Regions from separate parts of the Homo sapiens genome. Here region 2 is linked to region 1. Evidence: fine-mapped expression QTL. A gene starts in region 1. The other region holds a variant in brackets. All regions are shown on one strand. Distances are between the middles of the regions. Region 1 holds the start of TOR3A (torsin family 3 member A). Region 2 overlaps TDRD5 (tudor domain containing 5).

Evidence for each region. PIP is the estimated chance that this variant, and not a neighbour inherited with it, causes the effect.
Region 2: its variant is fine-mapped to the expression of TOR3A in aorta (GTEx, PIP 0.94).

The regions. Positions count from the first base shown.
Region 1 is chr1:179,079,934-179,085,168 of GRCh38, reverse strand. It overlaps TOR3A (torsin family 3 member A), which reads right to left and starts at 3,099. Exons shown (of 6, transcript NM_022371.4): 1 at 2,782-3,099; 2 at 2,116-2,229. The coding sequence starts at 3,040. RefSeq lists silencers at 1,475-1,534, 2,525-2,694, 2,835-3,124.
Region 2 is chr1:179,684,123-179,689,357 of GRCh38, reverse strand. All of the region lies in intron 17 of TDRD5 (tudor domain containing 5), which reads right to left. Among named protein-coding and RNA genes, the nearest start is that of FAM163A, 57 kb to the left of the region's middle. The variant G/A (reference allele first, on the strand shown) is at 2,309.

The DNA.
Region 1 (5,235 bases):
AGGCGTGAGCCATTGCGCCCAGCCTCAAGGACTACTTTTTGAAGAGTTTGGGAAATCAAGATGGGACTCAGGGAGAGTGGAATCACCCTTCCTAAAGATCCTGCAGATACCCAGAACAGTTGGCACAGACCTGTCTAGGGAGGAACCCTGTCCCCCATGTCCTGAGGCTGCTCCCATCCCTTGGTTTCAGGGCTCCCTGTTTTATGGAGAAGCCTGATTTTATTCATTCTCATTCAATTCAGCCAACACTTGGTGAGAGCAGCTCCAGTGTGCAAAGCCTTCTGCTAGGTCTAACTTCCTCCTGTCAGACGTGAGGTTGTAGGATTTGGAGATGGCGCTACCAGGAGCCACAGTGCAGACAGGCAGGGTGTGCGGCCAGCTGTGGGTGAGCATTCCAAATCCAGGATCAATTGGTTGAACACCTTAAGCCAGCCCAGAGCAGGTATTCTGGAGCCTTGGGAGGTCAAGGTCTATGATAAAACATTGAGGGCATCACACATTGCTCCAAAAGTAGTAGTGACATAGAAGAAAATTAACATTTGCTGCTTTTTTCTCTGTATTCAGAACTGGGCTAAGTGTTTTACATTTGGTCTTCACAATTCTGCAAGGCAGGCATTATTATTCCCATTTAAAGCTGAGGAAACTGGCTGGGCGAGGTGGTTCCCGCCTGTAATCCCAGCACTTGGGGAGGCTGAGGCGGGCGGATCACGAGGTCAGGAGTTCGAGACCAGCCTAGCCAACATGGTGAACCCCCTCTCTACTAAAAATACAAAAATTAGCTGGGCATGGTGGTGGGCACCTATAATCCCAGCCACTCGGGAGGCTGAGGGAAGAGAATCGCTTGAACCTGGGAGGCAGAGTTTGCAGTGAGACGAGATTGCTCCAGCCTAGGTGACAGAGACTGACTTGGTCTCAAAATAAATAAGTAAAAAAAATAAAATAAAATACAGCTGAGGAAACGGACACTTGGGAAGGACTCTTCAGTTTGCCAGCAAGGAAGAGGCACGACTAGGAGGGGTCTCCAATCCGCTGGCCAGAACAATTTGGATATCCAGGCCCTTGTCGAACAAAAGGCATGTTGAGGACAGAAAGTAACTTGCTAATTGCTACCTAGGGTCTTATCCAAGTCAGCAGTGATCCAAATTAAGACTTCCTGACCTGTATGTAGTCCTATCTTCTGTCCTGAGCCAGACTGTGTCCCTAAACACACTGTGTTATTGGCATTTTGGCCAATTAAGTGACCTAAATATCTGGGGTGGGCCTCATTTATGGAGATTGAAGGACCTGGGATCAGGAGAACTCTGGGCAAGAAATTGCTCCTGGGGAAAAGAGAGGAAGCTTTTGCAAATGTCTGAACAGGTTTCAGAACATGGGGCCAAAGATCACCTTGTGAGAGTGAAAATGCAAATCAACTGCGATATGCAAATCAAGCAACCCAAACTAATTAGAAAATACTGGTTGCCATGGCACAGTGGCTCACGCCTGTAATCACAGCACTCTTGGAGGCCAAGGCAGGCAAATCACAAGGTCAGGAGTTCGAGACCGGCCTGGCCAACATGGTGAAACCCGCCCCCCCCCCCCCCCCCCGCCTCTACTAAAAATACAGAAATTAGCCGGACGTGGTGGCAGGCACCTGTAATCCCAGCTACTCGGGAGGCTGAGGCAGGAAAATTGCTTGAACCCAGGAGGCGGAGGGTGCAGTGAGCTGAGATCGCACCACTGCACTCCAGTGTGGGTGACAGAGCAAGCCTCCGTCTCAAAAAAAAAAAAGAAAAGAAAGGGACACTTTTAATCACAACCCAGAATTTCTGATCAGTTCTCTCTGGATAGTTCCAGCCCCCTCTGAGAGGTAGCTGTTTCTGTTTAGAGTGAAACAAGGTGCTCTGGGCCTGACAAACAGCTCAGTTTGCCTGGGCTATTAAGCTAGAGGCTAAAAAGGGGCTTCCCTGACTCAAGCATTTGGTACTCCCTCAAAACTTCAGTCAGACTGTGGCAGTTCCTGCTTGTCGGGAGGCTGGGCAGGATGACGAAAGGTCCCTTGCATCTAACCATTTCCCCTGGACTGCCTCCCCTCCCCACAGATCCCTAGCCCCTTGAAGCCATGCGGGGTCCAACCTGTAAAGTTGTTGGAGATTCTGCAATCCCCTCTAGGGCAGCAGTCTTTGAAGCTGCAGTACCACGTGGTCAGGAGGTCCAGGTACCGCTGGCCCAACAGAGGAAGGCGCCAGCCTGGAAAAGGAGGAGCTGTGAGACCGAGAGGAGACCATCCGGTGCTCTACAGTGATGCGGCAACCTTGCCACACAACTTGTCAGGGACAGAGGGACACCCAGAACTCAGATTCTAACTCCCAGCCCCGACTCGGCCCACTGTCGGTCCTCAAGCCCTGCGTCCAAAAGCAGCAAGGGAGACGGCAGTCACCAGGCATGTCCACAGCGGACGTTCCCTAGAGCTGTCAAGAGCAACACCTTCGAATAACGCCAGGGTGGGCTGGGAGATGGCACAGGCGGTGCGAGAGAATCTGGAAAGCGCAGGGATCAGGGGAGGCGGGGGACGGGAAGCCGGGCGCCAGGGGGGTGCGCAGGGGACGCGGGTGGGGCAAGGGCGGTGATGGGGCTCCCTGCTCCGCGGAGGCTGCCCCCGCCCACAGCCGGTACCGGCGGCTGAGCAGAGCAGGACTGCGGGCCCAGATGTCGCCCCGGACAGGAGCGAGGCGACCACAGCCGCGCCCGGATCGCACTCTGCTCCGCAGCGAACGGCGGACCGTGGGGACGGGGTCTTACCCAGGGGCCCCGTGGCTGCCTCCTCGTCCTCGTCACAGTCGTCGGGCCACACCTGGCAGCTGAAGAGCGTCCAGTACCGCTTGGAGAGGGCACCCGCCGCCCTGAGCTGCTCCTGCAGGCGCTGGAAGCCCGGCCAGGCCCAGGCCGAGCCCGGCTCGTCGGTTCCCTCCCACGGCCTGGAGGCGCCGCGGGGCTCAGGCGCGCCCGGGAGCAGCAGCAGGAAAAAGAGCCAAAGCTGGCGCCACGGACCGCGAAGCATGGCCGGCCCCGAGCTGCGGGACCATCCGGCTGCCGGCCTAGCCAGGCTCCCTTAAGCCCGGGGCGGTCAGGCGGGGACCGCACTTCCTAGGCGGGCTTGAACCCGGGATTGGTGTTGCTGTGGCGACCGGCGGGCCGGGCTGAGTGCGCACTGGCAGCCTCCGTACACGTGACCCAGGCGGGAACCCGAAACCCTGTCTGGGGTCCTGAGAGGCAGTCCCGAGACTGACTTCAGGCCAGGTGCAACTAGCCGGCTTCCAGGAAGCAGTTTATTCTGGGTCGTGATTGTGGTTGCAAAGAAGGTGAACTCAGGCTTTGAAATGGCCACTGTCAATCACTCCGCTAGGACTTTCGGACGGCTCTGGTGGCCCATCAGAGGCCTACCGAATAAGGACACTCCTGCTTTGCCTCGCGTTTGCAGATCAACTTCCCGCCAACCTGTTAGAGGAAGCCGGAAAACCGTCTCAGTCAGGAGCGTTAGGCAGGCCAGGGGAGTCAGCTGAGTGGAGAAGAGGCCCTGGAAAGAAGGGCACAGCTAGGTGCCTGTCTGGCCAAGGTTGCCCTGGCTCCTCCGCAGAGGGAAATGAAACCGCAGCAAAACACCAGCAGGTTTCCACAGTGGGAGTCCACGAAAAGCAAGAGGAAGCTGATTGACGGGCTCCAGTCTGGAGGTGTTTGGAGTTTGGAAACCCCCCGAGTCATGGGTAAATCATGAGGCGTCATGTCAATGTAATTATATCTCATAAAAATCCGAAGTACTGTGTGCACTTTCTTGACTAGGTTTGCAACTTTCAAGTGCTGGGACTGAGCAGCCCATCCGACACCATTGGCAAAAGACTACAGGGCCTCTTTCCCTCAGCGCTCTCTTCTCCATAGCGAGGAGCATGGAACAAGGCTGTTAGATTTCAGAAGAGCTTAATGCATTGTTTAAAATCACCTGGCTTACTTCAGCCAAGCCAAAAAGCCGTCTTGTCTTAGGAGAAAACTGCTGTCTAGAGAGATCAGAGGACTTGGCTAATGTCATATGTTTAGTGGCTTTGAGGTTGGGCCCTCCAGACAGTAAGGTGAATACTAGCACCGTGTCTCACAAATGTCACAGGCAACTTGATTCATCTGTTCACCCCAGTCTCTTAGATCACACCGTGCCAGGTCTGCTCCATTCTCAGCAGCTCACCAAATTTGTGCCTTTCATTCGAACAGCTACAGAAACTAGATAAAGCACCTTTGCTAGGACACGAGGTTGAGTTGAAAAGTAAAATGTTTATAGTGTCTCAGCCATTCAGTGTGATGTCAAAAACTTTTCATAGAGTAGCAGCCATGGCACCAGCCCAGCACTGTGTACATCGAGCTTGCGGAGTCCACCGGAGACAGTTAACAGCACATACACCACAGTGCTTATTGGAAAACCAAAAAAAATTAGGCAGGGTGTGGTGGCTCACGCCTGTAATCCTAGCACTTTAGAAGGCCGAGGCGGGCGGATCACCTGAGATCAGGAGTTCGAGACCAGCCTGGCCAACATGGTGAAACCCAGTCTCTACTAAAAATCCAAAAATTAGCTGAGTGTGATGGTGCGCATCTGTAATCCCAGCTACTCAGGAGGCTGAGGCAGGAGAATGGCTTGAACCCAGGGGGCAGAGGTTGCAGTGAGCCAAGATGGTACCACTGCACTCCAGCCTGGGTGACAGAGCAGGGCTCCATCTCAAAAAAAAAAAAAAAAGAAAAAAGAGAAAAGAAAAAAAATTAACTCACTCAACAAATGTCGTTTGAGTCTGAATGGCAGTCTAATATAGTGATTACCATTTTCTATTTGTGCAACCATGGATGTTACTGAACCGTCCCATGCCTGTTTCCTCACCTATAAAAAGGGATAATAAAATAGTCCCCTCATAGGGCTGCTGTGAAGATTAAATGAGCTCATTCAATGAGCACATCATCAACACTCAATACGTGGCCAGTTTTATTTTTGTATCTACCCAGCCATGGAGGAGGCTCTGGGTGGTCTACACAGGAGGCAAGGATGGCTTTAGTTAATACTGGTGGTTTATAAGTGAATTTATGGTGAAAAAATTAATAGTAACAATAGTTTATTAAAACAATCCAAGTTTTAAGATGTTGTGGAAAGAATTATCTGTACTTGGAACTTTTATGTAGGGCTACCTGCTCATTTCTGAGATGTTCTGACTTGGATTTAGCATC
Region 2 (5,235 bases), 600 kb before region 1:
CAGCCTCTGCTGGTGATACCCAGGCAAACAGGGTGTGGAGTGGACCTCCAGCAAACTCCAACAGACCTGCAGCTGAGGGTCCTGACTGTTAGAAGGAAAACTAACAAACAGAAAGGACATCCACACCAAAACCCCATCTGTACATCACCATCATCAAAGACCAAAGGTAGATAAAACTACAAAGATGGGGAGAAACCAGAGCAGAAAAGCTGAAAATTCTAAAAATCAGAGCTCCTCTTCTCCTCCAAAGGAACGCAGCTCCTCACCAGCAATGGAACAAAGCTGGATGGAGAATGACTTTGACGAGTTGAGAGAAGATGGCTTCAGATGATCGGTAATAACAAACTTCTCTGAGCTAAAGGAGGATGTTCGAACCCATAGCAAAGAAGCTAAAAACCTTGAAAAAAGATTAGATGAATGGCTAACTAGAATAAACATCATAGAGAAGACCTTAAAGACTTGATGGAGCTGAAAACCATGGTATGAGAACTGCGTGATGCATGCACAAGCTTCAGTAGCTGATTCGATCAACTGGAAGAAAGGGTATCAGTGACTGAAGATCAAATGAATGAAATGAAGCAAGAAGAGAAGTTTAGAGAAAAAAGAGTAAAAAGAAATGAACAAAGCCTCCAAGAAATATGGGACTATGTGAAAAGACCAAATCTACGTCTGATTGGTGTACCTGAAAGTGATGGGGAGAATGGAACCAAGTTGGAAAACACTCTGCAGGATATTATCCAGGAGAACTTCCCCAACCTAGCAAGGCAGGCCAACATTCAAATTCAGGAAACACAGAGAACACCACAAAGATACTCCTTGAGAAGAGCAACTCCAAGAAACATAATTGTCAGATTCACCAAAGTTGAAATTAAGGAAAAAATGTTAAACGCAGCCAGAGAGAAAGGTCAGGTTACCCACAAAGGGAAGGCCATCAGACTAACAGCGTATCTCTCTGCACAAACTCTACAAACCAGAAGAGAGTGGGGGATAATATTCAACATTCTTAAAGAAAAGAATTTTCAACCCAGAATTTCATATCCAGCCAAACTAAGCTTCATAAGTGAAGGAGAAATAAAATCCTTTACAGACAAGCAAATGCTGAGAGATTTTGTCACCACCAGGCCTGCTTTACAACAGCTCCTGAAGGAAGCACTAAACATGGAAAGGAACAACTGGTACCAGCCACTGCAAAAACGTGCCAAATTGTAAAGACCATCAATGCTAGGAAGAAACTGCATCAACTAACGGGCAAAATAACCAGCTAACATCATAATGACAGGATCAAATTCACACATAACAATATTAACCTTAAATGTAAATGGGCTAAATGCTCCAATTAAAAGACACAGACTAGCAAATTGGATAAAGAATAAAGACTCATCAGTGTGCTGTATTCATGAGACCCATCTCATGTGCAGAGACACACATAGGCTCAAAATAAAGGGATGGAGGAAGAACTACCAAGCAAATGGAAAAAAAAAAAAAAGCAGGGGTTGCAATCCTAGTCTCTGATAAAACAGACTTTAAACCAACAAAGATCAAAAGAGACAAAGAAGGCCATTACATAATGGTAAAGGGATCAATTCAACAAGAAGAGCTAACTATCCTAAATATATATGCACCCAATACAGGAGCACCCAGATTCATAAAGCAAGTCCTTAGAGACCTACAAAGAGACTTAGACTCCCACACAATAATAATGGGAGACTTTAACACCCCACTGTCAACATTAGACAGATCAATGAGACAGAAAGTTAACAAGGATATCCAGGAATTGAACTCAGCTCTGCAACAAGCAGACCTAATAGACATCTACAGAACTCTCCACTCCAAATCAACAGAATGTATGTTCTTCTCAGCACCACATCACACTTATTCCAAAATTGATCACACAGTTGGAAGTAAAGCACTCCTCAGCAAAGGTAAAAGAATAGAAATTATAACAAACTGTGCCTCAGACCACAGTGCAATCAAATTAGAACTCAGGATTAAGAAACTCACTCAAAACCGCTCAACTACATGGAAACTGAACAACTTGCTCCTGAATGACTACTGGGTACATAACAAAATGAAGGCAGAAATAAAGATGTTCTTTGAAACCAATGAGAACAAAGACACAACATACCAGAATCTCTGGGACACATTTAAAGCAGTGTGTAGAGGGAAATTTATAGCACTAAATGCCCACAAGAGAAACCAGGAAAGATCTAAAATTGACACCCTAACATCACAATTAAAAGAACTAGAGAAGCAAGAGCAAACACATTCAAAAGCTAGCAGGAGACAGGAAGTAACTAAGATCAGAGCA[G/A]AACTGAAGGAGATAGAGACACAAAAAACCCTTCAAAAAATCAATGAATCCAGGAGCTGGTTTTTTGAAAAGATTAACAAAGGAGATAGAACACTAGCAAGACTAATAAAGAACAAAAGAGAGAAGAATCAAATAGATGCAATAAAAAATGATAAAGGGGCTATCACCACTGATCCCACAGAAATACAAACTACCATCAGAGAATACTGTAAATACCTCTGTGCAAATAAACTAGAAAATCTAGAAGAAATGGATAAATTCCTGGACACATACACCCTCCCAAGACTAAGCCAGGAAGAAGTTGAATCCCTGTATAGACCAATAACAGGCTCTGAAACTGAGGCAATAATTAATAGCCTACCAACCAAAAAAAGTCCAGGACCAGTCAGATTCACAGCCGAATTCTACCAGAGGTACAAAGAGGAGCTGGTACCATTCCTTCTGAAACTATTTCAATCAATAGAAAAAGAGGGAATCCTCCCCAACTCATTTTATGAAGCCAGCATCATCCTGATACCAAAGCCTGGCAGAGACACAACAAAAAAAGAGAATTTTAGACCAATATCCCTGATGAACATGGATGCAAAATCCTCAATAAAATACTGGCAAACCAAATCCAGCAGCACATCAAAAAGCTTATCCACCATGATCAAGTGGGCTTCATCCCTGGAATGCAAGGCTGGTTCAACATATGCAAATCAATAAACGTAATTCCTCATATACACAGAACCAAAGACAAAAACCAAGTGATTATCTCAATAGATGCAGAAAAGGCCTTTGACAAAATTCAACAGCCCTTCATGCTAAAAACTCTCAATAAATTAGGTATTGATGGGATGTATCTCAAAATAATAAGAGCTATTTATGATAAACCCACAGCCAATATCATACTGAATGGGCAAAAACTGGAAGCATTCCCTTTGAAAACTGCCACAAGACAGGGATGCCCTCTCTCACCACTCCTATTCAACATAGTATTGGAAGTTCTGGCCAGGGCAATCAGGCAGGAGAAAGAAAGAAAGGGTATTCAGTTAGGAAAAGAGGAAGTCAAATTGTCCCTGTTTGCAGATGACAAGATTGGATATTTAGAAAACCCCATCATCTTAGCTCAAAATCTCCTTAAGTTGATAAGCAACTTCAGCAAAGTCTCAGGATACAAAATCAATGTGCAAAAATCACAAGCATTACTATACACCAATAACAGACAAACAGAGAGCCAAATCATGAGTGAACTCCCATTCACAATTGCTTCAGAGAGAATAAAATACCTAGGAATCCAATTTACAAGGGATGTGAAGGACCTCTTCAAGGAGAACTACAAACCACTGCTCAACAAAATAAAAGAAGATACAAGCAAATGGAAGAACAATCCATGCTCATGGATAGGAAGAATCAATATCATGAAAACGGCCATACTGCCCAAGGTAATTTATAGAGTCAATGCCATCCCCATCAAACTACCAATGACCTTCTTCACAGAATTGGAAAACACTACTTTAAAGTTCATATGGAACCAAAACAGAGCCCGCATTGCCAAGACAATCCTAAGCCAAAAGAACAAAGCTGGAGGCTTCACGCTACCTGACTTCAAACTATACCAAGGCTACAATAACCAAAACAGCGTGGTACTGGTACCAAAACAGAGATATAGACCAATGGAACAGAACAGAGGCCTCAGAAATAATACCACACATCTATAACCATCTGATCTTAGACAAACCTGACACAAACAAGAAATGGGGAAAGGATTCCCTATTTAATAAATGGTGCTGGGAAAACTGGCTAGCCATATGTAGAAAGCTGAAACTGGATCCCTTCCTTACACCTTATACAAAAACTAATTCAAGATGGATTAAAGACTTAAATATTTGACCTAAAACCATAAAAACCCTAGAAGAAAACCTAGGCAATACCATTCAGGGCATAGGCATGGGCAAGGACTTCATGTCTAAAACACCAAAGCAACGGCAACAAAAGCCAAAATTGACAAATGGGATCTAACTAAACTAAAGAGCTTCTGCACAGCAAAAGAGACTACCATTAGAGTGAACAGGCAACCTACAGAATGGGAGAAAATTTTTGCAATCTACCCATCTGACAAAGGGCTAATATCCAGAGTCTACAAAGAACTTAAATAAATTTACAAGAAAAAATCAACCCCATCAAAAAGTGGGCAAAGCATATGAATAGACACTTCTCAAAAGAAGACATCTATGCAGCCAACAGACACATGAAAAAATGTTCAGCATCACTGGCCGTCAGAGAAACGCAAATCAAAACCACAATGAGATAATATCTCATACCAGTTAGAATGGCGATCATTCAAAAGTCAGGAAACAGCAGCTGCTGGAGAGGATTTGGAGAAATAGGAACACTTTTTCACTGCTGGTGGGACTGTAAACTAGTTCAACCATTGTGGAAGACAGTGTGGCGATTCCTCAAGGATCTAGAACTAGAAATACCATTTGACCCAGTCATCCCATCACTGGGTATATACCCAAAGGATTATAAATCCTGCTGCTATAAAGAAACATGCACATGTATGTTTATTGCAGCACTATTCACAATAGCAAAGACTTGGAACCAACCCAAATGTCCATCAATGATAGACTGGATTAAGAAAATGTGGCACATATACACCATGGAATACTATGCAGCCATAAAAAAGGATGAGTTCATGTCCTTTGTAGGGACATGGATGAAGCTGGAAACCATCATTCTGAGCAAACTATTGCAAGGATAGAAAACCAAACACCACATGTTCTCACTCATAGGTGGGAATTGAACAATGAGAACATTTGGACACAGGATGGGGAACATCACACACCGGGGCCTGTTGTGGGGTGTGGGGAGCAGGGAGGGATAGCATTAGGAGATATACCTAATGTAAATGACGAGTTAATGGGTGTAGCACAACAACACGGCAC